2 separate regions of the Homo sapiens genome follow, and region 1 is linked to region 2. The links come from fine-mapping of genetic effects on gene expression. A gene starts in region 2. The other region holds a variant in brackets. All regions are shown on one strand. Distances are from middle to middle.

Region 1 (12,466 bases), 130 kb after region 2:
TGTATGTCTCCACTCCTCAGTATTCCTCATGTGTGAAATATAAATTTGGACTAGATGTGTCCACTGGGAGCCCTTCTAGCTCTCACATAGTAGGGCTTATGCTGATCCATCTGTAAGAATTCAAATGGGCCTGAGAACAAAGGCAGGATGTGCCTAGCTTTGGCTGAACACATTCCATTCGCTGGATTTCCCCACTTTATTTTCAGCCTAGGCAGACTAAAGATACCTCAGGCATCTGGCCAGTCGTTTCCAAGAACCTGCTTCAGCTTGGGTAGCAAGAAGATCAACAATTCCATCAACTAGCAAGAAAGGGACACCACCTACAGCAGAGTTCAAGGTCACAATCTGCAAGCCAGGACTCAAATCAAACAGGCCACCAGTAGATTTCTGACTGAAGAAGGGGCTGGTGGGCATGTCCTCTTCATCTCCCCTCGTATGTCATGTCCAGCCAGAGGATGGAGAAGAGAAATGAGCTCAACGAGAATAGCTCCACTAACTAATCTGGCCAAACCAGTAGTGACCTCTTCTCCACTGACCTTTCCCCTTCTGGGGCTCACATTTCCTCAAGGTCATTTGGGACCACAAAACTGGAAATAAGTTCCAGTTTCCTGCTATCACCTCAGAAAGGCCTTTGGCTCATCTCCAATAGACTTTAATTTGCCTCTTTGTATCTAGGAAAGAAGGGAGGTCCCCCTCATAACCTTAATGGGGGTCAGTGGGAAGACAATGATCCAGCTTAACTGCGGGACCGTAATGGCTAGGTGCTCTCACCTTGGGAATCCAAGATGTCAAGATGCTGGGGAAGGAATCCAGAGATTCCTTAGGCCTGATCCCAACCAATGCAGGAAGGGGCTAGGTCCCCACGACCTCAGAGTCTGGGATTATTCTCCATTCTCAAACCTCTCCTCCTCCCAGGATCCTCAGCTTTGGGCTGTGCTCCCAGCCCTTTCCTGAATAGTTCCCATCCTTGTGATTCCACATTGATCCTGGTTTACAGTAGAGAAAGGGGGAAAATATCCAAATCCTGTCTCTGATATTCTTTGGTACACTCAGGGCAGTGCTGATAATATTAGATTAGGAGGGAGGGAGTTAGACCTATTTTTGTCTTACCAAAAGGGGTAGGTGGAAGAAACTCACCTAAGTTAGGGATGTGGATTTGAGGTATTTCCTGTCTTGGAGAGAATAGGTAGAGTCCCATTTGGACAGGGAAAGAAGCCCTGGTACTCATCCTCCTTAGGCTCTGGTATGACCAGAGATGTAGCCATTTTGGAGAAGAAATTCCCTCTTCAAAGGAGGACAATTTAATGCTTGTACCTCATTTTTCTTAGGCAGAGTGATAAGAGGAAGTGACACAAAATGGGCTCAGTGGGAGAAAGGGCAAATGCTGATCAGCCCTTTTCTAAGTCTTCCATTTCCTTTCCAAGCCTCTTTCCTGGCACACCTAGACAATCTTTCTCATCTGACCATACTTGGCTGCTCTGGATCCCTCACCTCTCCCTTACTTGGCTTGGCTCCTGTTTTGGGTCTTGCTTTCTACCCTGAGCCGCCACACTAACACCTGTCCAGAGATATCAGGGATGTTTATACACTTCTCAGTGGCTGGACTGGGCCAGGCCTGGAGGGTTGGCTGAGGACCAGACAGAAAGCTTGTCACTCAGACTCATTCTTGTTGTTTTTCAAATTCTTTTCCTCTTTTTGACTCTTTCTCTGTGTCTTTTCTCCATGTCTCTCTTTACCTCATGCCTTTATACAGTGCTGTTTAAATTGGATTATTCCTAGGGTGATATGGTGAAGACTATTTGGAGCCACAGAATACACATGGCACATCTTCCAGAGTGTTAATTTTACTTTTAAGATTTGGTGGGGGAAGATAAATCATTTTTATGCTAAAACCAACACAAATATATTATGCAGTGTAAATCAAAATTTGCATTTTTTAAAGAAAATAGGTACTTCAAAGACATTTCTGGGTTATGACAGGCTACTTTAGACTGCTTTGGGAGTCCTGGGGGAAAATGGTTCACTCTCTTGTATCTTAGGGGTCCTGCAGAAGAAATATTTGAGAAGCTCTACTTAGAGCAGAGGTAACAAACTAAGACAAACCTAAACACTAAACAGGAGTCAGGCAGATATAAAAGATCGAAGCATGTGAGTGTAATGCAATAGGGAGTGGTGAGAACTGGCAAACCAGAGCCTGTCTAGCCCCTTCAGCTCCAGCTGATTAATGCCATGAAAGAATGTGACTCAGTGTTACCAAATATGATTGCTTTTTAAGAGACACCAGAACGGTAGATGTTAGTGAAATCTGATTTTTAAATGTTTACAACCGATTCAAATGTTTAGGAAAGGAAATACAGGTTTATTTATTTATTTATTTATTTTTAATTTTTTTTGAGACAGAGTTTCACTCTTGTTGCACAGGCTGGAGTGCAATGGTGCGATCTCGGCTAACTGCAACCTCCGCCTCCCAAGTTCAAGCAATTCCCCTGCCTCCGCCTCCTGACTAGCTGGGATTACAGGCCTGCACCACCATGCCCAACTAATTTGTATTTTTAGTAGAGATGGGGTTTCGCCGTGTTGGTCAGGCTGATCTCTAACTCCTGACCTCAGGTGATTTGCCTGCCTCAGACTCTCAAAGTGCTGAGATTACAGGTGTGAGCCACCGCACCCAGCCGGAAATATGGGTTTCTAAATGTCTGCAAGCTGGTTTGGCCTATGGGCCCCTGATTTGCTGCCTCTGGCTTAGTGTTTCCTCCAGCTTTGCTTAGGTTCATCATCAGCTAAAATCAAGACAAAAGAAGAGAAACATGAATCACAGTGTGATCTCCCTTCCCTACCTAAGTCCATCTCCCCACCAGCTTCCCGTCAATCTTGGAGCACTTGTGTCAGGGATTTTCTCCTCCAACCACAAAGCAGGGTGGGCACTATCAGAAATGGTGTTGAGATACAGGAAAGAACAAGAGGAAAGAAGAAAGCAGTCTTTGGATATAGAAGGGTATTCAGTTTAAAGGGTATTCACCAGGGGAAGATGAAACCCCAAATAGGGAATTATCATAATTTTTGTCTCTCCTTCCTCACTTTCATTCCTAACCTCCAGGCCTCCCTCACAGTCAAAAAGATATTCTGAACTTGCTAATGATCGACCTCTCTCCCAGCCCTTCCACCTTCCAGGTGACCTAATTTTCCCAAACCAGAGATAGCAGATCTTGCCTTGTCAGACTTGGTCACCATTTCCAACCTCTCTGACCTTCACGATCATTTCTTCTACTTTCCAAAAGTATGTGAAGCACAGGCCTGGGCTTGCAGGGTGTCAAATTCTGTTCCCAAGAGTTGGGGGCAGTGGGATGCATGAGTTTGCAGGAGAGTTTGAAGCTGTCCTGCGGGACAGCTTGAGGAGATAGAACTGCAGAGAAGCCTCTGAGTACTACTGGCAGAGCTACACCTATCTCCAGGGGAAACAAAGGAGCCATTGGCCCCTGCCCAACCACCCTCTTCCTGATCTACAGGAATCCAGAGGTAAAACAGAAACCAGAGTTTCCTCAGAGTTGGAAGGTGAAGCAAGCATGAAAGACAGGGAATAAAGAGAAATGGGAGAGCAGGAAACAAAGGATTAACCCTGAGTCTGGCTAGATGAAGGAGGAAGTCAGAATCTGAAGTGGAGAGGGAGGGATCTTTAGCCACAGAACCATATAAGGGAAGCACAAATGTTGGCCAGGCGCGGTGGCTCACGCCTGTGATCCCAGCACTTTGGGTGGCCAAGGCAGGCGGATCTATAGTGAAACCCCGTATCTACTAGAAATACAAAAATTAGACAGGCGTGGTCGTGAGCATCTATAATCCCAGCTACTCAGGAGGCTGAAACAGGAGAATCACTTGAACCCGGGAGGCGGAGGTGCAGTGAGCCGAGATTGCGCCATTGCACTCCAGCCTGGTGACAGAGTGCGACTCATCTCTTAAAAAAAAAAAAAAAAAAAAAAAAAAAGGAAGCACAGTTCTTATGCCCCTGAATACCTCCTCCCCTCTCAGCAGCTGAAATCCTTGTTCTATCCATCTGTCCAGGAGGTTAAAAATATCCAAGCTGGGAACCTAGCCAGACATTTCCAAGAACCTGTTTACTGACCATTTGATTAACTTTGATTGTCAGCAACTTCATAGCCCAACAAGGACTGAGAATGGACGTTGCCTAACATCTCAGGACTCAGGGCACATGGAATTCACAATCCTGTACCTTTGTTTTCCCTGTCTTCTTTCTCCCATCACTCTGTTGCCTGGAGATGACCAATCAATTGATAGTCAAAGTCTGTTCATTCTTTTCTCCTTACATAACAGGCCCAGCAGAGAGTAGGGAAGGGTCAAGCAAAGGGAAAGGTCGGGACAGAACAAGAATAGCCTAAATAGGCTAAACTGGGCCTCATCCGTGGACTCACCTCCATTGACCTTTGTGCTCCTCAGTCTAGTCCACCCCACAGAAAAATCAAATGGAATGCAATACCTTGAAAGAAAAAGTCTGGAAGACCTGTGGCATCACATTGTATATCCAGCACTCTCTGTTCCTCAGTTTATCACTCCAAATGGTGGGAAGCTTTTCTTTGGAGTTGTGTACTGAAAAGTTAAGAAAGTTCAAATAATTTTTAGAAGGTTACAGGGTTTAATCCACAGGCTTGTGAAGCACACTGGAAGTGTGAAAAAGAACACCCTGAGGCTAAGTGGGTGCTGTGGCTCACTCCTGTAATCCAAGCACTTTGGGAGGCCGAGGCAGGCGGATAGCTTGAGTCGAGCTGTCTGGAGTTCGAGACCAGCCTGGATAACATGGTGAAACCTCACCTCAGCTAAAAATAAAAAAATCAGCCAGACATGGTGGTGCATGCCTGTAATCCCAGCTACTTGGGTGGCTGGGGCGAGATAATTGCTTGAACCCAGGAGGAGGAGGTTGCTGAGATCGCCCCACTCCACTCTAGCCTGGGTGATGGAGTGAGACTCTGTCTCAAAAAAAAAAAAAAAGAAAAAGAAAGAAAGAAAGTAAATTAATCAGGGGGGTAATGAGGGATATGTCTCTTCTTTTATTTTAGATAACAATCACTTATGTGGCATTGTTCTAAATTTTACATATATTTTTAAATTTCTCACAATCTTCTGAGGTAGGCATTATTATTATCTCTCATTTTATAAATAAACAAACTGTTACATAGAGAGGTTTAAACAAGTTGCCCAAGGTCACATAGCTGGTTAAATGGTAGAAGTAAGATCTTAATTTAGATAGTTTGGCTTCAGTGTCCACGTGCTTAACTACTATACTATGCTATTTTTTCTTCCTTTTCCTTTTCTTTTCTTTCTTTTTTTTTTTGTTTTTTTTGGGACAGAGTCTCGCTCTGTCACCCAGGTGCTGGAGTGCAGTGGCATGATCTCTGCTCACTGCAACCTCCCTCTCTGGGGTTCAAGCAATTCTCCTGCCTCAGCCTCCCAAGTAGTTGGGACTGCAGGTGCGCACCACCTCACTTGGCTAATTTTTTGTATTTTTAGTAGAGATGGGGTTTCACCATGTTGGCCAGGCTGGTCTCGAACTCCTGACCTCAGGTGATCCGCCCACCTCGGCTCCCAAAGTGCTGGGATTACAGGCGTGAGCCACCGTGCCCGGCCTATTTTTTCTTAATAGTATAGGAAGACTAATCTTTGGACTTTTTCTGGGTTCTAGACTTACCTATTGTGCCAGGACCTGCAGCCCTGGATCTTTAGCTCTCTGAAAAGGAGTGTTTCAGCTTATGAAATGGAGGTCGATGTGAGGTCACAACAGAGAAAGGACAAAAAAACTTCCCATCCCCCATCCCCAAACTATTGAGGCCAGGATGCCTGGGGGCAGGGACTTGTGATCATTGGAAGGTCAGTAAAATATTTTCCTTATTCACCTTATGCATTTTATCACCTAGAGGTAGCCCAAGAAAATAATTCTAAGAGGGATCTGTAGTCTGTTGAAAGAATTGGGCCAAGGTTGCGTGTGCCTGTAGTCCCAGCTACATGGGAGGTTGAGTAGGGGGAATCCCTTGAGGCTATGAGTTCAAGGTCAGAGTTTGCTATGATTGTGCCTGTGAATAGCCACTCCACTCCAACCTGGGCAACATAGTGAGACCCTCTCTCAAAAAGAGAAAAAAGAATTGTGCAAAGGTCACTCCTTGACTCCACTTCATGCCCTTCAGCTCTTGTGTGATTGTTTTTTGCTGAACATGTGCTTTGTCAGATCCTCCCCTCCACATTTTTCCTTCCCAGTGCCTCAACCCAAGTTAGATCCTTGTGTTTCCAGTCTGTTCAGAGGTATCAATCAAGGCAGCCAATGACTCTGGTTGTTGAAGTACCTGTTTTTTGTTTTGTTTTGTTTTGAGAAGGAGTCTCTCTCTGTCTCCCAGGCTGGAGTACAGTGGCGTGATCTTGGCTCACTGCAATGTCTGCCTCCCAGGTTCAAGTGATTCTCCTGCCTCAGCCTCCCAAGTAGCTGGGACTACAGGTGCCTGCCACGCCTGGCTAATTTTTTATATTTTTAGTAGAGGCGGGGTTTCACCATGTTGGCCAGGCTGGTCTCAAACTCCTGACCTCAAATGATCCACCCACCTTGGCCTCCCAAAATGCTGAGATTACAGGCATGAGCCACAGCACCCGGCCCCTTTTTCTTGTTAATTTTATTTTCTTGCCCTTTTCTCTCTTTAGGTAGTTTTCTTTTTTAGTTCTCTCAGATCTCCCTATACCAGATTAAACCTACTGAATAAATGATACTCAGAACCACATCTCCTCTAATCATTGTACATGTAGGTCATAGCTACTTAAAAATTAAAAGGCACGTGAGAAGAGGATAGGCAAAGAAGACCCAGAATATTCCCCCACTTAAGTGGGGAAATAGCTAAGCCACTCCCCAAGGAAGTGTACTGAAGCAAGCCTGTACGCGGAAAATGTCCTCGGGTGAGGTAGAAGTTGTATACACAAGGCAAAAAGAAGTAGAGTGGAGTTTTTGTGCTGTAAGAGAAGGATAGGTTTCCTCTGGGGGAACAGCTCTAGCTGCTTACTCCCTTAGATTTTGATGTGGTATTCAATATGGCAGTCACTAGTCACTAGTCACTAGTCACATATGTGACAGTCACTAGTCACAGAAAGCTAAAGTTTAATTGAATTGAACAAAATTGGGCCGGGCACAGTAATCCCAGCACTTTGGGAGGCTGAGATGGGCAGATCACCTGAGGTCGGGAGTTCAAGACCAGCCTGACCAACATGGAGAAACCCCATCTCTACTAAAAATACAAAATTAGCCAGGTGTGGTAACGCATGCCTGTAATCCCAGCTACTTGGGAGGCTGAGGCAGGAGAATCGCTGAACCCAGGAGGTGGAGGTTGCAGTGAGCCGAGATCACGCCATTGCACTCCAGCCTGGGCAACAA[GA/G]GAGAAACTCCATCTCAAAAAATAATAATAATAATAAATAAATAATTAAACAAAATTAAAAATTCAGTTACAGGCTGGGCACAGTGGCTCACACCTGTAATCCTAGCACTTTGGGAGGCTGAGGTGGGAGGATCGCTTGAGCCCAGGAGTTTTGAGACCAGCCTGGGCAACATGGCAAAACTTCATCTCTATGAAAAATACAAAAATTAGTCGGGCTTGGTGCCATGCACCTGTAGTTCCAGCTACTAGGGGGCTGAGATGGGAAATCACTTGACCCTGAGAGGTGGAGGCTGCAGTGAGCAGAGATCATGCCACTGCACTCCAGCCTGGGAGACAGAGCAAGACCCTGTTTAAAAAAAAAAAAAAAATGTGTGCACAGCACTTTGGGAGGCTGAAGTGGGCAGATTGCTTGAGCCTAGGAGTTCAAGACCAGCCTGGGCAACATGGTGAAACCCTGTCTCTACAAAAAATAGAAAAAATTAGCTGGGCATGGTGGCATGTGCCTGTAGTTCTAGCTACTTGGGAGGCTGAGGTGGGAGAATCACCTGAGCTTGGGAGGTCAAAACTGCAGTGAGCCAAGATTGTGCCACTGCACTCCAGCCTGGGAGACAGAATGAGACCCTATCTAAAAAAAAAAAAAAAAAGATAAGAAAAAAAATCAGTTTATCAGTCATAGTAGCCACATTTCAGGGCTAGTGGCTACTGTATTGAAAATTTCCATCATCATAGAAAGTTCTATTTGGACAGCTGGATAAAGGATATTAAGGGTATCCGGAGGAGATGCCCATGTTCTGGCCCTTCCAGGATCAGATCTCTTTTTTTTTTTGGAGACAGTCTTGCTCTGTCGCCCAGGCTGGAGTGCAGTGGTGCAGTCTGGGCTCACTGCAACCTCCACCTCCTGGGTTCAAGTGATTCTCCTTCCTCAGCCTCCCGAGTAGCTGCAATTACAGGCGTAAGCCACCGCGCCTGGCCCTAGGATCAGATCTCTAAGAGGCCTTGGGTATAAAGTTATCTATCCTTTCGAAGCCATCCCTCTTCTCATATTGGGTACTGGTAGCCCAACTGTGCACACAACCAGGCTCATGTACTCCATGGTCTCTCCATTCCTTTGTCCTGCTCTCTGGCCTGCTCTTATCATTGCTTCACCCCTCTAGGCCCTGGAAAACAAGCTACAGAAAAAACTTTTCCATCAACTTTGACCTAATTTCCTGGTCACAGATTTGAAGGAGAGGAGCCACTAAATTCTTGCACAGGTGAGAAAGGGGCGGAGAGTTCAGGTGAAAGTCACCCTGGCAATAGGGAGAAATAGAGACTGACACTTTGGTAATGAAAGAGAGACAAAGAGAGGGAGGAGAGTGCTATGGAAAATGAAAGATAAACGAAAAATGAGGATTGAAATGGAAAAGGATCTTTTAAATCTCACTTTCTGTTAAATTCACATTGATTTTAGTTTGCTTATTATTTATTTATTTTTGAGACAAAATCTGTCCCCCAGGCTGGAGTGCAAGTGGTGCAATCATAGCTCACTGTAACCTAGAACTTCTGGGCTTGAATGATCCTCTTGCCTCAGCCTTGTGAGTAGCTAGAGCTACAACACCCCACACTGATTTCATGTAGAATTTCCAGGAGCCTGTTATTTGGAATTAGTTTGTGGAAGTCCTCAGAAAAATCAATTCCCAAATAAGGACCAGGACCAGATCTGTGCAAATATTTAAATTGGCCATCCCAGGGTTTCTCCACCTGTCGGTTCTTTAGGAATGAAAATCACTGCTGGGCGCCATGGCTCACACCTGTAATCCCAGCACTTTAGGAGGCTGAGGCGGGTGAATCACGGGAAGTCAGGAGTTCGAGACCAGCCTGGCCAACATGGTGAAACCCCGTCTCTACTAAAAATACAAAAATTAGCTGAGTGTGGTGGCTCATGCCTGTAATCCCAACTACTCAAGAGTCTGAGGTAGCAGAATCGCTTGAACCTGGGAGGCGGACATTGTATTAAGCCAAGATTGGGCCACTGCACTCTAGCCTGGGAGACAGAGCAAGACTCTATCTCAAAAAAAAGAAAGAAAGAAAGAAAGAAAGAAAATCACACCAATTAAACATGGGATTGTGGTATTACTCTACTACTATTACCCTACAAGGAATAGGAACCATCAAATCATCTAAGGGATGAGGGTGAAGTTGAATAGTTAGCAAACATTTACTGAGTTATGTGCTTGGTTAGGAACTGTGAAAATAAAAAATGGTTAGCTGCCTCCAAAGAATTTAATACTCATAACTCTATAACCTCTTAAGTCCTGAAGTTATCCTTGTTAGTATATAAATCAAGTTTACATTGGGAAGAAACCCTATGATAAAACCATATTGTAAAAAGGGGATCTTCAGCTGAGTGTGGTGTCTCACGCCTGTATTCCCAACTCTTTGGGAGGCCAGGGCCAGCAGATCACTTGAGCCCAGAAGTTTGAGGCCAACCTGGACAACATGGCAAAACCCGAACTCTACAAATAATCAAAAAATTAGCTGAGCGTAGAAAAAACAAACACATACACACACACACACGCACACACAATTAACTGAACGTAGTTGTGTATGCCTGTAGCCCAGCTATGTGGGAGGCGGAGATGGGAAGATCACTTGAGCCCAGGAAATCAAGGCTGCAGTGAGCTAAGATCATACTACACTCCAGCCTGGGTGAGTGAGACTGTCTCAAAAAAAGGAACCGCCACTCTTTTCTTTCAAATGCCCTCATAAACATCATCTCCCTGTATTTCAAGAACCCATGAACTCCAAAACTGAAGGAATTTAGTAATGATTACCTATGGATTTGGAAAACTAGTTTAGACAACCGGAAAATCCCAGTATAGTTGTTCAGTGAATCTGAAACATGCCTCAAACGGTTTCCCTCTTCACCTTCTAGCCCCCACTCTGCCGACATTCCTTAGGGTCCATAGGGAGTGTTTTCTCCACAAGGTTTTCATTAGTGTGGATTGTTAAGTAGAGGAAAACTCCTTTAGACACACCTTCTTTCCAAAAACTTTTCCAAAGCCATCTCACAGACATTTTTTTTTCCATTAAAAAAACTTTATTTTCATTTTTTACAAAGAATATCCCCATCTGGGGTAAAAATATATCTGGTTAAGTACAAAATATAGTCTTTACCATACAAAAAGATACATAATACAAAAACATGAAACCAACCATCTTCAGCCCACACTTTCTGGCTGTAATAACTCTCAGAAAAGGGTGGAGCTCAGTGCTCTGACACAGGACAGTGAACAAAGTGCTATGGCTGAGAGTGACTGACCAAGTGCTGGCAGCTGCAGTGAGGGGCCAATATCCCTATCTCCTAACACAGGGCAGGAAGGGGGTTCAAAGGGCTTTTATGAAGACCTGCCCTCTAGTTTCTCATGGCAGTATTTGGAGGTTCTGATCACAGGGTTGGGCATCTTGATCAAGAGTTCCTCCTTGGGTTTGAAGTCACAGTGGGCAAGGCTGACAGCAGCAACCCTTTCACATGATTTAAGCGTTAGAATTATATAATTCTGTACATTGGGGCAATCTCAAAAGTAGTAAAATTTTTTTTGTCTTTTGGCTTAACCCTAGAGACACAGTAGACCAGTTTCAGCTTACATTTAAGATGGCAGAAGGGGAGAACAAAAAATTTGACAGGAATTAAAGTGCTAAGAACATCACCTTAGAATCAATTCCAAGGACTTACATGAAGAGAAAACCATCCTCCCATATGAAAATATTTGCAGTAGGAGAACACAGTGCAATAGGCTCCAAAAATGGCTTTTAAGACCTTTGGTGGGGCAGTTACTACTGCTTTAAAAGCCAGGTTAAAGTATACTCTAAGCAAAGATGACCGTAGAGCAGCTAGCTTCCTTTTTTATAATCACAGGGAAAGCTCTCTCCATTGTCCATCAAATCAGCTCTAGAAGGTTTTTCTTTTTTTTCTACAAGTGCACAAAGGGGAAACACTGATTTTAAGAACCTCCTTTTCCCAAAGTTTTGGCCACAATTTCCCTTTTCATCTTCCTAGTTTGTTAAATTGGCTCTTCTCCACATGATACGTAAGTTCAAGGTCCAAAGTTCCTATCACAATTTACAAAAAGCCTCCAAAAAACCTTGAAAAGCTTACGCCAGGAGGCCATTTTTACCTGACCCGAAACTATCGAAAAGGCCTCAATTTTCAAGGAGATCTGAGAAAATGGATGGGCCTGAGTTTTTCTAGTTATTTTTAAACCCATCCAACAAACACCCCTGTATCACAACATGGGCGCTGGCTGAGGATGAGTCCGCATCCTTTAAGGCCCAGGAGATTGCCTGCTGACCACCTCCTACATTAGGAAGTCAGAGGCTAAGGTGGACCCACACTCCATTGCAGAGACTGTTGAGTCTCTGAAAAAGTGAGTGTCCAGGAAGAGAGACAAAAAGAAACAAGTAGGTAAAGCTGCTTCTTTTCTTCCACATGCTCACTGCACATTGTTGTTGAGGATGCAGGGATCCACCTAAAGAAAGAAACAGACTATTTCAGTTCAGGTAAGAACAAAAAGAACAAACCAGTTTAGCAATCCGTCTAAGTCAACTTCTTATAGAAAGCTTAGGACAAATTTAACAGTAAAGATGACAATCCTCACCTCAGTATAAGTCGGTGGTGGCATGAACTTGAACTCAGGGGCATACATAAAGATAGGGCTGTCTTGAGAGCCATCCATGTCATCTAGCAGAGGAGTGGTTGGGCTCTCCAATCGGTGATCTTCAGGAATGACATCCATATAGCAGGGAGGAGCTAGAAAAGAAAATATGGCCACATAAGAATCCTGCCCAAGAAATGCTGGACCATCACAATTTTACAAACCCAGGTAGACCAGAAACAAAGAAAAGACATTAGGTCTGGCTCACCTTCTGGGGTATCAGGGATGTTCAGATCTACCCAACTCATCTCAGAGCTGGTTCGGCTGGCCATGCTGGATGTTCTGCTGCTTAGACCTGATCTGCTGCCAATTACCAGGGGCAGGTCAAGGATGACCTTCTTGGATCCAGGAACG
Region 2 (12,466 bases):
GCTGAAGTGGGCAGATCACCTGAGGTCAGGAGTTCAAGACCAGCCTGGCCAACATGGTGAAACCCAGTCTTTACTAAAAATACAAAAATTAGCCAGGCATGGTGGTGGGTGCCTGTAATCCCAGCTACTCAGGAGGCTGAGGCAGGAGTATCGCCTGAACCCGGGAGGTGGAGGTTGCAGTGAGCCAAGATTGTGCCACTGCACTCCAGCCTGGGGAACAGAGTAAGATTCCATCTCAAAAAAAAAAAAAAGAAAAGAAAAAGAAAAAGAAATAACCAAGAAAAGAGGTTCTAGTGGATGTCCTAGGTAAGAGGAAGCAAAATGGCCCTACCCATCAATGATAAGAGATTCATAGGGAGCCTTCTTGTCACACACAGGACATGTCCATGTAGGCTTCTTCTCATTCATCTGTAGATAAAGGGCAGCATCGAAGCTCTGCAGGTGGGCGCAGGTGAGGGCACGACAAGGGACAGTCAGGCGCATCTTCCCTAGCTGAGGAGAAGCAAGTTCTCTTGTCAGAGGCCCTACTCTGATTTCATCCCAGAAAACTTCACGCCAGTATCCCTAGGAACCCTCATCAAAGTCCACAGGCTAAACCCAACTCCCTTCCCACCCTGTTCCCTTCTCCCCTTTTACCCACCGGGCACATGAGTGACACCCGGAGACTTGTAGTGGCCACCTCACTGTCAGGGTCAGCAGTCAATTTCTCCTTGACTGAAACAAAAGTGAGGCCAGAGCCATGGGGTCAGCAAGGCTGGAGGAAGCCCAGGAGTTGGTAAGGCCAGGAACAGATGGCTCTGGCTGAGAGGCTGCTGGGTGGAGCGTCTTTGGGGGCCAGTGGGACGTCACATGGAAGTGGTCTGGGATATGGATGATGAAGGCTGGGTGTGGGGGATTTTCCCATCCCTGAAGATGCTTAAACATAGCGTGACACTCTGGCTATGTTAGAGATGATCTGGAGGAGTTGAAGCATCATGTGAGGGTTAGATTAGAGGACCCCTAAGATTCTTTCCAGTCCGGAGAGCCCATATTCTAGCAGGGCTGGAGTTAGGGACTGTGAGGTGCAAAGCAGATACATGATTGGAAATTCAAGGGTGCCTGGGAGTGGTCCAACTTCAACTATAAAGACTGGAAGACTGGTCAGGGGTAGAGGGGGAGGGTTGGGGTTCATGTGAGAAGGGGAGTAAGTTGTCAAAAAAGAGGTATGGGTTTAATTATGAAGGCTGGAGGGCCAGGAAGACTTGAATCCAGATCAGGTGGGGAAGAGAGGAAAGATGTTACTCACTCAGTGCCCGCGAGTGGTCTGGGTTCCGGATACCCTTTGCTCTGAGTTTTTGTAGAAGGGTTCCTGCAGTCAACTGCCTCACCAGGTACACAGACAAGGAGTAATTCTACTTGGAGGCAGGGGGTAGACAATTAGCCTCTGCTTCTCATACCACCACTGCCCACTTTTGTTCCATGAGGACCAGAGACAGACTCATAAAGAGGAAAATGCTTCCCCAACCCAGGACACTGGATGGTTCCCCTTCACCCTCAGCAGGCTTTTCCAGGCACCTGCTTTAGCTGTGCTCACCCGTCCGAACTCAGATGACCAATTGACCACAATGGTGTTGGGAACAGTGGCTGAGAGTCGAGCCAGGGGTGTGATGTTGATGGGGCGGCTGGGCCTCTTGGGCTCGGCCCCATTCTTGGTTGGGGGAAGGTAACCCTGGAGAAGGGAGGGATTGGTCAGTGGAGAAGTGGCTCTGGGAAGGGGCTCTGCTCTTTGAACAAAAGATATCTTGTCTCGGGTTATTCAATCCCTGGAGGGAAGGCCAACTCGCTCACTCACTGACCAAGGGGATGGAGGCCCATTCAGTGGCTCACAAAACTGGAGCACTGTCTAGGGTTATGTGTGGGGTTCACTCCTGGGGAGAAAGGAGAGCTTATTTATTGACTGAGAAAAAAGGAACTCACTGAGTCCCTGAGGAGGAGGAATAAGGATGCCTCACCTTTTCTAACTCTCAGCTCTGGGGTCAAGTCTTTCTGGCCGGGTGTACTGGCTCATGCCTGTAATCCCAGCACTTTAGGAAGCCGAGGTGGGTGGATCACCTGAGGTCAGGAGTTCGAGACCAGCCTAGCTAACATGGTAAAACTCCGTCTCTACTAAAAATACAAAAATTAGCCGGGCAGGGTGGTGGGCACCTGTAATCCCAGCTACTTGGGAGGCTGAGGCAAGAGAATTGCTTGAACTAGGGAGGCAGAGGTTGCAGTGAGCAGAGATTGCACCATTGCACTCCAGCCTGAGTGACAGAGCGAGTGACTCTGTCTCAAAAAAAAAAAACAAAAAAGAAGTCTTTCTTACATCTCGGGTTGAACTAATGTCCTCCTCCGAGTTCTCACAAAACCTTTGTTCAGCCCTATCTTAATACTCTCGAGATTCTATTGATTCAGTCAGTAAACTGAGCACCTACTATGTGCCACGCACTGTGCTAGGCATGTCTCTTTCAGAATAGGTTTGTAGTTAATATTTATGAACTGAAACGGTAAGGGATTACTGACAGAAGAAGGGGAGAGCATTTACCGGCAGGGGGCACAGTTTCCCATTGACCTTGACAAAGAGGTTGGGGGGAAAATAATCTTCCTGGGGGCAGCTGGTCTCACAGAGACAGAACCTGGTAAGAGATGAGAAAGGAAGAAAGAGTGGGAAGAAATTTCTTAACTTGAATCTGGCAGAGAGACAGGGAACCCCAGAAAATCAGTCATAGATGCCTGAAGCCCTCAGCATCCAACAAGAGTCGCAGGGCTGCAGTAGGCAGTGGCAGAGCAGGGACATCTCGTAAGGGTATCTGTCATACCCCTACTTCACTCCTACCCCCAGTGGGTACCCAGGATAGGCAGGGAGGATGAACTCACCTTAGCTGCACCTGTATGGTATAATCACATTTGGCTCCTGGCAGAACCTCTCTGTAACAGGGAGGGAGATGAAGAGATGTCAGCATGTAGCCCCCAGAGGGCAAGGGTGAATGCACAGAAAGGCTGAAAGTCAGATGTCCAGGAGATAGAGAAGAGACACACAGAAGAACAAGAGACAAGTAGGTATAGGAGGAGGGATAGGGAAGAGCACAGGGCAGAAGAGAAGAAAGTCAGAAAGCAGAGACCAGGGATGAGGCAGGAAGACTGGAAGAGATGTACCTGGATGTAAGAATCTGCTGCACTTGCTGGGGTGTGAGGGCAAAGGTAAAGTGCGCTTCCTCAAACCGCTGGCTAGAAGTGGATGCTGAGGATACAAAGGGGCAGTTATTCCAAGCCCATGCACAGGCAGCCACAGAAATCGCCCCCATCCCAGGTCACTGATCCCATAGGACTAAAGCCTAAGAAATGTTTGGGGAACAGGTAGGGAGTCCAGAAGACTAAGGGACCACAAAGAGCCATACCAAGGGTGGTGGGCCGGATGAGCTCCCCATAGACTTCATAGAAGGGCAATGGTTTCATGGTGACATCAGGGTGCACAGGCTGGGGCAGAGGGGGGTGCATGTCCACCTCACGCTTGGGGCCCAGCAGGGTGCCAGGGGCCAACAGCGTTGGGGGAATGGGAGCTAGAGGACCAGGGGAGCCTACAGGAGAGGTGCCAGGGGGCAAAGAGAGAAGGGAGAGATCAGAGGGCCCCAGGGTCTTCCGGGGAAAGCGTCGTCGGTAAAGCTCTTTGATCTTCATCTGGACACTAGGGGCACAGCTGGACTTCAGGAGGTGCAGAGCCTTGGCCAGGAGCTCGTGCTTCCGTCCACTCTTGTTCCGGCCAGCAAAGCCAAGAAGCACCTGGAGCTCAGACACCCGGAAACTCATCACCATGTGCTGTGGAGAAAAACAGAGAAGCTTGAGCATCCTCCCTTGCACAGGCCTGCCCTGCCAAGACATGGGCTGAGCTACCAGGTGGGCAGTGCCTTTCTCTCCAGCACTGATGGGAAAGATGATGCTTCGCAGCTAGTGGATTACTGCCAGGTAGTCGACCTATCCAAAGGGACATCTCAGTCCCACTTTAGCAACCATCAGGTCAGCATCATCACCACCACCCCCGAGCTTGAGCAACACTATTTCCCCAGGCCTGGAAGCAGCCAGAGTGGGGCAGGGAATGGCAGACAGCAAGCCACCCTCAGACACACCTCCGAGTCCATGCAGCCTCCCGCCTCCATCCCTGGACTCTGCTTTAAGCTGCTTATCTCCTCTCTTGCCCTTTCTCAGACTCTCAAACCCATCCCAGCCTCCTGGGAACAGGATAGGAGACAGGGAGAAGGAGGGAGAGACAAGAGGATTCAAGCCAGACAGCCCCACGGGAAGAAAGGGGCTAGGTGGCTGGAGGATTGTGCCCTTCAGCCCACCCCTCCCAACCACCTTAATTCACCTCAGCTATTTCCCCCAAGCCTCTGAAGCTTCTGTGGCCAGGGTTTTCAGGTCAGGGTTCAATGCTCATAACTTCCCCAGATCCTTTCTTGGAATCGTTTATATAACCACCCCCTCCCCACAACTTAGTCCTATTTTTCTGGAAGGGAAACAGGACCAAAACTTGGGTCGGGGAGATTAACAGTGAATCACTGAGTCCAAGTATCCTGCCTGTTTACTCTATCTGCCAGGAACCATAATCTGGCATCTCTCCTACACAGAGAAATTAATACTCCTCTACAACTTACAGCGCCCCCCTATAGGGGTGGAAGAGGAGAGGGCAGAGCTCTAAACAGAGACCCTGGGTGGATGAAGGAAAAGCCTCTGAGTCAGGGCACAGAATCGCAAATCCCCTGAAGGTAGCTGGGCCCAGTGGCTAGACCTCCAGCCTTCCCAGGACCATAGCTCCCATTTCAAAGGGCAGAAGAAAACCAGGAGGCAGGCGGATGAACTCGGTAGTTTGAGGTTCTATGAGATGTCCTCAGATGTGGTCACCCTCCAAACTCTATGTAGCAGGAGGGGAGCGCTCTCCTTAGAAGACTCCCTTCTGTGAATCTCTAGGAGATCCTGTCATGTGCAGGGCTTGCTAGCCCTACACAATTCTTCTCATAGGAGGCTTTGTCTTGGACCCCTTTTATGGAATGTGATGAGAAACTTGCTCCTCTTTCTCCCCATCCTTATCTCCTCTGTCCTGTCTTTTTTTCTCCATTAGCTTCCCCTATAACTTCCCACCTTTCTATCCCATAGTTTCACATGCCTCTGCCTCTTCCCAAACACCGCGATTCACTACGGCAGGACCTTCCTCTGAGCCTCCAGGATGCTTCTGCCCCACCCCTCGAGGTATCGGCCCGCACAGCCCCGCCCCCTGCATCTCAGCAGCCTACTGGTATTTCCCAAAGCTCGGATCCCGAGAGTAGCCCCAAAGACCCTATCCTCTCAGCTGCCTTTCCCCCGGAGCCTCCCCTACGTCTGCCCCGCGGTCCCATCCCTGCATGTGCCCCCTACTGTTGCATCTCTTGGCCTTGATCGACTCGCCCCCAGTGCCTCTACAGCACCTTTTCCCCCTGGCCCTACCCCAACAACCGCCCCTACTACTAAATCCGACTTCTACCCCTCGTCCCCGCCCCCTGCGCCTCAGCCCCCAACAGCTGCAATTCCCCTCGGCCCCACCCCTACATCTGCCCCGCAGCCCCGCCCCCGGAGCCCCGCCGCAGCCCCTTCCTCGCTCTCAGCTACTTCTCTCCCATCCTCAGCAGCTCGTGCCTGCCACGTCGTCGGCGCCCACCCGAGCCCCGGCACCCAGTCTCGGTCGCTTCCCGGACACGGCGTACCGCCGGGCTGAGTCCAGATGGGGATGGGGGGAGGGGGCCGGTACCTTTAATTCGCCCAGCTCCGCCATCTTGAGACATCGCAGGCGCCCCAGCCGGAGCCGGAGCTCAGGCCCAGGGACCGGCGCACAACTCTCCACCCTGGCGCCGGCCGCAAATGCCGCCTGCTCCGCCCAGTCCGGCCCCCTATACCTCCCCTTCCCGGCCCCGCCCGCCTGGCTTCGGACAAGCCCCAGCCTGAGCCCCTCCCTCCACAGCCGACCCAGCAGCTACACGTCTGCGGCCGGTTGGCAGGACGCGTAGCCCCGGAGGGAGTGTATGGCCCCCAAGATCGCGGGGTCCCTAGGGCAACGGGGAGGAGGCGGGCCCGAAGTGCCTGGTGGAGGGGGGCTTTGCCACGGCAGAGTTGGGAGGGGACAAGCTTTTAGGGAGCCAAAGATACTTGAAAGATGGAGGGAAAGTATCGGGAACTGCTAGAGCTCAGAGAAATGGGGGAGGGGGTAGCGAAGTTGGAGCGCAAACCCTCATCTCCATCTCTGCATAAGTTTAATCAACTAAAATCGAGAGGTCTTCCAACTCGGGAAATGGGCGAGCGCTGATCCGTCTTAGGGAAGCCGTGGAGTCGGCATTCAGTAATTCACCCTCTCCTCCTCCCCCATACACCAACTACAGTGCAGCTCGTGGTCCGATCGTAGGACTCAAACTCGGCAGCAAAAAAAAGTTTGGTGCGGGGAGCGGGACTTACCAGCACAATTGTGGGAAATGGAGAGAGGGCTCGGGAGGCTCAGAGGGCGAGCTGGAGAGGTGGGGGAATGGGGCTCGGCGCTGCTCCTGCTGTCCGCACGGCAGAAGTTCGGTCCAGCAGCCGGACGCGGCGGCCGCGGCTCCGCCCGGGCCGGAGCTCCGCCCGGCCTAGCGCTCGGGCTGGGGCCGCCCCCTCCAGGGGAAGCCCGCCAGGACCGCCAAGAGGGAAGGGGGGCGGAGCTCGGGCGAGAGAGGGAGGGACTCAGAGCTCGACGTTGGAGAGATTAACTCCTGGTGTGAGTGGATCTGGAGAGACGAGATCCTTGGATCCCATCATTCTCACTACCTCTGTGACCCCTCAACGCTTACGTATGGGATTGGGGTGGTGGCACACTGCTGCTAAGCCGGTGTGAACCAGGTATCTGACAGTATAAAGCAGTCTTCCTTGAAATGACAACTGTCCCTCCCTAGGGCAAAGCCTGGGGTACTGAATCCAAAGTGTACCTAACAGTAACTACCCTAGATACACGTGCAGAATACCTCCACCAGAGCCCCCATACCTTTGGTGTAGCTGAAGATGAACAGAGGGGTTTTCTTACCCACAAAAGGGATCTTTCTGTCCCTCTCTGAACTGCCTACCCACTCTCCTTCCTCCAAAGCCTTGGACCCTCCAGAGGCCCCATCCCAACCAAGCTGATCACTCACATGCAGGCACCAAATTAAATCTGTTTCTGTATCCATGGAAATACCTATTTTTTTATTTTTTTGGGGGGGGACCAAGTCTCACTCTGTCACCCAGGCTGGAGTGCAGTGGCGCGACTTGGCTCACTGCAACCTCCGCCCCCCGGGTTCAAGCAATTCTCCTACCTCAGCCTCCCGAATAGCTGAGATTACAGGCCTGCGTCACCACGCCCGGCTAATTTTGTATTTTTAGTGGAGACAGGGTTTCACCATATTGGCCAGGCTGGTCTCAAACTCCTGACCTCGTGATGCGCCCGCCTCACCTTGGCCTCCCAAAGTGCTGGGATTACAGGCGTGAGCCGCCGCGCCTGACCCAGAAAATACCAACTTAAGGGAAATGTACCCGCACTACATACTGAGAAACTCACAGCATTTTATAGTTGGCTGCAATTTGTTCAATAAATATTTGAGTGCTTATCAGGGATCATTAGGTGCTGAGGACATAAAAGCCTTGCAGGAGTTCACAGTCTAGCAGCAGAGACAAGACATGTTAAACCTATAATCAGCACACCAAAAAAGGGCTTTAATAAATAGGAAAAATCCTTTTATTTAGCTTAAGCCTTCAGTATAATCCTCCTCATAAGACCCTACCCAGGCCAAAGATTGAAGGTGCCAGTTGAACTGGAACTAGGCCCAGTTACTTTGTGGTTTTTGTCCCTAGGGAAGATGCCACCCTCTCCTAACACTCAGGTTCTTTCCTTGCTGCTTTGCTACCCAAATTGGTGAGCGCTTCAAGCTAAACTCAGACTCAACTAGTTCTAAATTCCAGCTGCTCCCTTCCAACACCTGAGTCTTCATCAGGTCCTGAGATCTTTTTTGCTGTTGTTCTGTTCAGTCCTCTAGATCAAAAGTTACTATAGTTTGTATTTCTAAGAATTTTCAGTAGTTGCAGGATGAGGAAGGTAGGGAGGATTATTAAAAAGAGACAAAGCGGGGATCTTTCGGAAGTGATGGATATGTTCATTATCTCGATTGTGTAATGGTTTTATGGGTGTATATGCATATGAAAACACATCAAATTGTATACTTCAAATACATGCATTTTACATGGAGAGACATATTGACGTATATCAGTTGTACGTCAATAAAGCTGTAAATGGCCGGGCGCGGTGGCTCACGCTTGTAATCCCAGCACTTTGGGAGGCCGAGGCGGGCGGATCACGAGGTCAGGAGATCGAGACCACGGTAAAACCCTGTCTCTACTAAAAATACAAAAAATTAGCCGGGCGTGGTGGCAGGCGCCTGTAGTCCCAGCTACTCGGAGAGGTTGAGGCAGGAGAATGGCGTGAACCCGGGAGGCGGAGCTTGCAGTGAGCCGAGATCGCGCCACTGCACTCCAGCCTGGGCGACAGAGACTCTGTCTCAAAAAAATAAAATAAAATAAAATAAAAAATAAGTAAAGCTGTAAATGCTGGGCACGGTGGCTCACGCCTGTAATCCCAGCACTTTGGGAGGCTGAAGTGGGCGGATCACCTGAGGTCGGGAGTTCGAGACTAGCCTGGTCAACATGGAGAAACGCTGTCTCTACTAAAAATACAAAAAAGTTAGCCAGGCGTGGCAGCGCACGCCTGTAATTTCAGCTACTCAGGAGGATGAGGCAGGAGAACTGCTTGAACCCAGGAGGCAGAGGTTGCAGTGAGCCGAGACTGCACCACTGCACTCCAGCCTGGCACAGACCAAGACTCCATCTCTAGATAAATAAATAAATAAATAAATAAATAAATAAATAAATAAAGCTGTAAACATTTAAGAGAAAACCTCACCTTGAGTTCTAGTGATTTCATGAAGGAAGAATCTCCTTTAAAAGTTAATTTGGGCCAGGTACGGTGGCTCACGCCTGTAATCCCAGCACTTTGGGAGGCCGAGGTGGGCGGATCATGAGGTTGGGAGATCGAGACCATTTTGGCCAACACAGTGAAACCCCGTCTCTACTAAAATACAAAAAATTCGCCGGGCGTGGTGGCGTGTGCCTGTAATCCCAGCTACTTGGGAGTCTGAGGCAGGGGAATTGCTTGAACCCGGGAGGCTGAGGTTGCAGTGAGCTGAGATCGTGCCACTGCACTCCAGCCTGGCGACAGAGCAAGACTCCGTCTCAAAAAACAAACAAACAAACGAAAAAAGTTAATTTGAAGGCCAGGCATGGTGGCTCACGCCTGTAATCCCAACATTTTGGGAGGCCGAGGCAGGCAGATCACTTGAGGTCAGGAGTTCAAGACCAGCCTGGCCAACATAGTGAAACCCCATCTCTACTAAAAATACAAAACTTAGCCAGGTGTGGTGGCGCATGCCTGTAGTCCCAGCTACTTGGGAGGCTGAGGTGGGAGAATCACTCGAACCAGGGAGGCAGAGATTACAGTGAGCTGAGATCACACCACTGCACTCCAGCCTGGGTGACAGAGCAATAATACATCTAAAAAAAATTAATTTGAGGTTACTAAAGTTATTGAAAGAGAGAAAAAATAAATTGGAAAAAAGTTAATTTGAGGTTATAAGTTCTAGCATCCCTACAGGATGACGGAACCGGGGAACCTGAATCTTATCCTGCATGCAAGCTCCAAAAGGATAAGAAGGTTTTCTGTGCTGCCTCTACTCTATTCCCAGTGCCTGACAAATAGTAGACTCCTTAAATATCTGTTTAATAAATTAATGTTACCAAAGGAGGGAAACTGTGAATCAGAAGCAAAGTTCCAGATTGAAGGCATTCAAAAACATAGTCTGAACCTGATCATGGCCCATCGGGTTTCACCTACTTTCACCCACATACTCCTACATCTCAAGCCTGGGGAATGGGGTGGGGAGATGAAGCAGGAATCATAAGTCCCTGCTAAGTCCCATTAGAGAGCCCAGGAGGAATAAAGGGAACATTAGGATTATAGCTACTTTGGGGAAAAAAATTTATGAACTCAAGAAAAATTTTAAGACTGGGGCTGTTGAGGTAAGTTTGTGGAGTTTTAGGGAGGGAGACTGGGAAAACCAGGGGCTAAGGAAGTTTCTACTCCTGTGTTAACATTAACATCACTCACCACTCCCATAGCTCAGCCCATCCTGGAATCAGTTTCCAGGAGCCCCGGAGGGAGCCAAAGTCCTGGCTTCCATTACCAAAGCTGCTTCCTGACTCATTCTTGAGTTTAGCCCAATGATCTCCCCCTTTCTGGACCCTTCTCTCTACAGTTTCTTCATTCTCCCCACCCCACACGTCATATATAACAAGAAATGTAATAGTCCTTTAATATACATTGGTAATTGAGAGCAGGAAGGCAAGGAGAGGTTCTGTTCCCCTTGATAGAAATGACTCAGACCCTTTTGATGATCTTTCTTCAATAGCTGCACCTCTTCCCCCTTTCTCCATCAATCCCTCCTTTTTCCATTTTCCTGGCCGTAAAGCAGTCCCGTGCCCATCCACGTAAAACCTCTGCACCTTCTCTAGGATCTGATCCAGATATCTCAGATGCTCTTTTTCACTCTTGGCCAAACTCTGGAGCTGGCCTCTGCAGCCCTTGTGTAGCCCCCTGTCTTCCATGGCAGCCCCTCCCCACTCTTTTTTCTCAACCCAGCCTCTTTACTGCCAAAACTGCTGCTGTCTGACCCAGTGTAACCAAGCAGAGGGTGGACTGAGAGAAGGAATGGGGAGGGATCAGCGTGCGGGCCACCAAACTGCAATTCCAGATTTTAGAGGAATTCACTGCCTCATTTTCACCTAACAGCATGCCTGGTGGAAGGGCAGGCAGAGGAGGAGACCCAGGGGAAGTGGCCAAGAGAGATACATTTTTTTTTTCAGTCTGAGAATGGAATCACAGGCAAAAATGAAACTTGGGTATCCCTTCATCCTCTACCCAGGAATCAGACTTTTCATCCCTTTTGTCACCTGGGACAAAGAACAGTGAGACCATGTGTGTCAAATATAGACACATTGTTTAACACTTGATAAAATACTTTAGAAAGTATATCCTGAAGAAAATCCAGGTCTCTCAATCTCCCCTTAAAAAAAAAAAAAAAAAAAAATCATGGATTCAACAGTCCCAAGGCAGAGAAAAAAGATTAGAGCTGTGACAGATTCGAGAAAGTGGAAAGGAAGAGTGTCAAACCCCATTTTCACTGAGGGCTATTTTTCAAACCGTGGGTCTTGACCCATTAGTGGATGCATTTTGATGGAGTATATTAGCAAAGAATAGAAGAGAAATAGTAAAGTATTATTCGAGCTATGTATACACAAGATACAAAATGTATTTCTTGGCCAGATGCAGTGGCTCATACCTGTAATCCCAGTACTTAGGGAGGAGAATCACTTGAGGACAGGAGTTTGAGACCAGCCTGGCCAACATGGCAAAACCCTGTGTCTTCAAAAAGTACAAAACTTAGCCACGCATGGTGGTGCACGCCTATAATTCCAGCTACTCAGGAGGCTGAGGCATGAGAATACCTTGAACCCAGGAGGCAGAGGATGCAGTGAGCTGAGATCACACCACTGCACTCCAGCCTGGGTGACAGAGTGAGACTCTGCCTCAAAAAAATTTTTTTTTATTTCTTACTAGGGATCAAAAAGTTTGAAAGTTGCTGACTTATAGGGCCATTTGTGAATTTCATTCAAAAACAAATTAAATAATTGCCAAGGCCAGGCATGGTGGCTCAAGCCTGTAATCCTAGCACTTTGGGAGGCAGAGGTGGGTGGATCACCTGAGGTCAGGAGTTCAAGACTGCTTGGCCAACATGGTGAAACCCCGTCTCTACTAAAAATAGAAAAAAATTAGCTGGATGTGGTGTCATGCACTTGTAATCCCAGCTACTCGGGAGGCTGAAGCAGGAGAATCGCATGAACCCAGGAGGCGGCGGTTGCAGTGAGCTGAGACTGCCCTACTGCACTCCAGCCTGAGTGATAGAGTGAGACTCTGCTAAAAAAAAAAAAAAAAAAAAAAAGTGCCAAAGCTTGGAAACAATCAAGATGTCCTTCAGTAGGTGAATGGATAAATAAATTGTGACACATTCAGACAATGGAATATTATTCGGTACTAAAAATAAGTGAGTTATCAAGCCATGGAAAGACATGGAGGAAATTTAAATGTATATTACTAACTCAAAGAAACCAGTCTGAAAAGGATACATACTGTATAATTCCAACTAAGCACAACTGGGGATGGGAGAAAGATCAGTGGTTGCCAGGGGTTAGCAGGGATGGGGAGATGAGCAGACAGAGCAAAGAGGATTCTTAGGGCAGCGAAACCACTGTGTATGATAAT

What was found.
Region 1: its variant is fine-mapped to the expression of PIAS3 in whole blood (TOPMed, PIP 0.94).

Annotation. Positions count from the first base shown.
Region 1 is chr1:145,981,961-145,994,426 of GRCh38, forward strand. It overlaps TXNIP (thioredoxin interacting protein), which reads right to left. Exons shown (of 8, transcript NM_006472.6): 6 at 12,321-12,466; 7 at 12,056-12,207; 8 at 10,475-11,926. The coding sequence ends at 11,891. Among named protein-coding and RNA genes, the nearest start is that of TXNIP, 8.4 kb to the right of the region's middle. RefSeq lists an enhancer at 10,748-10,827. The variant GA/G (reference allele first, on the strand shown) is at 7,418.
Region 2 is chr1:145,853,173-145,865,638 of GRCh38, forward strand. It overlaps PIAS3 (protein inhibitor of activated STAT 3), which reads right to left and starts at 5,909. Exons shown (of 14, transcript NM_006099.3): 1 at 5,795-5,909; 2 at 3,417-3,834; 3 at 3,175-3,259; 4 at 2,896-2,946; 5 at 2,564-2,654; 6 at 1,574-1,708; 7 at 1,286-1,391; 8 at 641-714; 9 at 332-492. The coding sequence starts at 5,818. RefSeq lists silencers at 5,946-6,035, 6,506-6,715.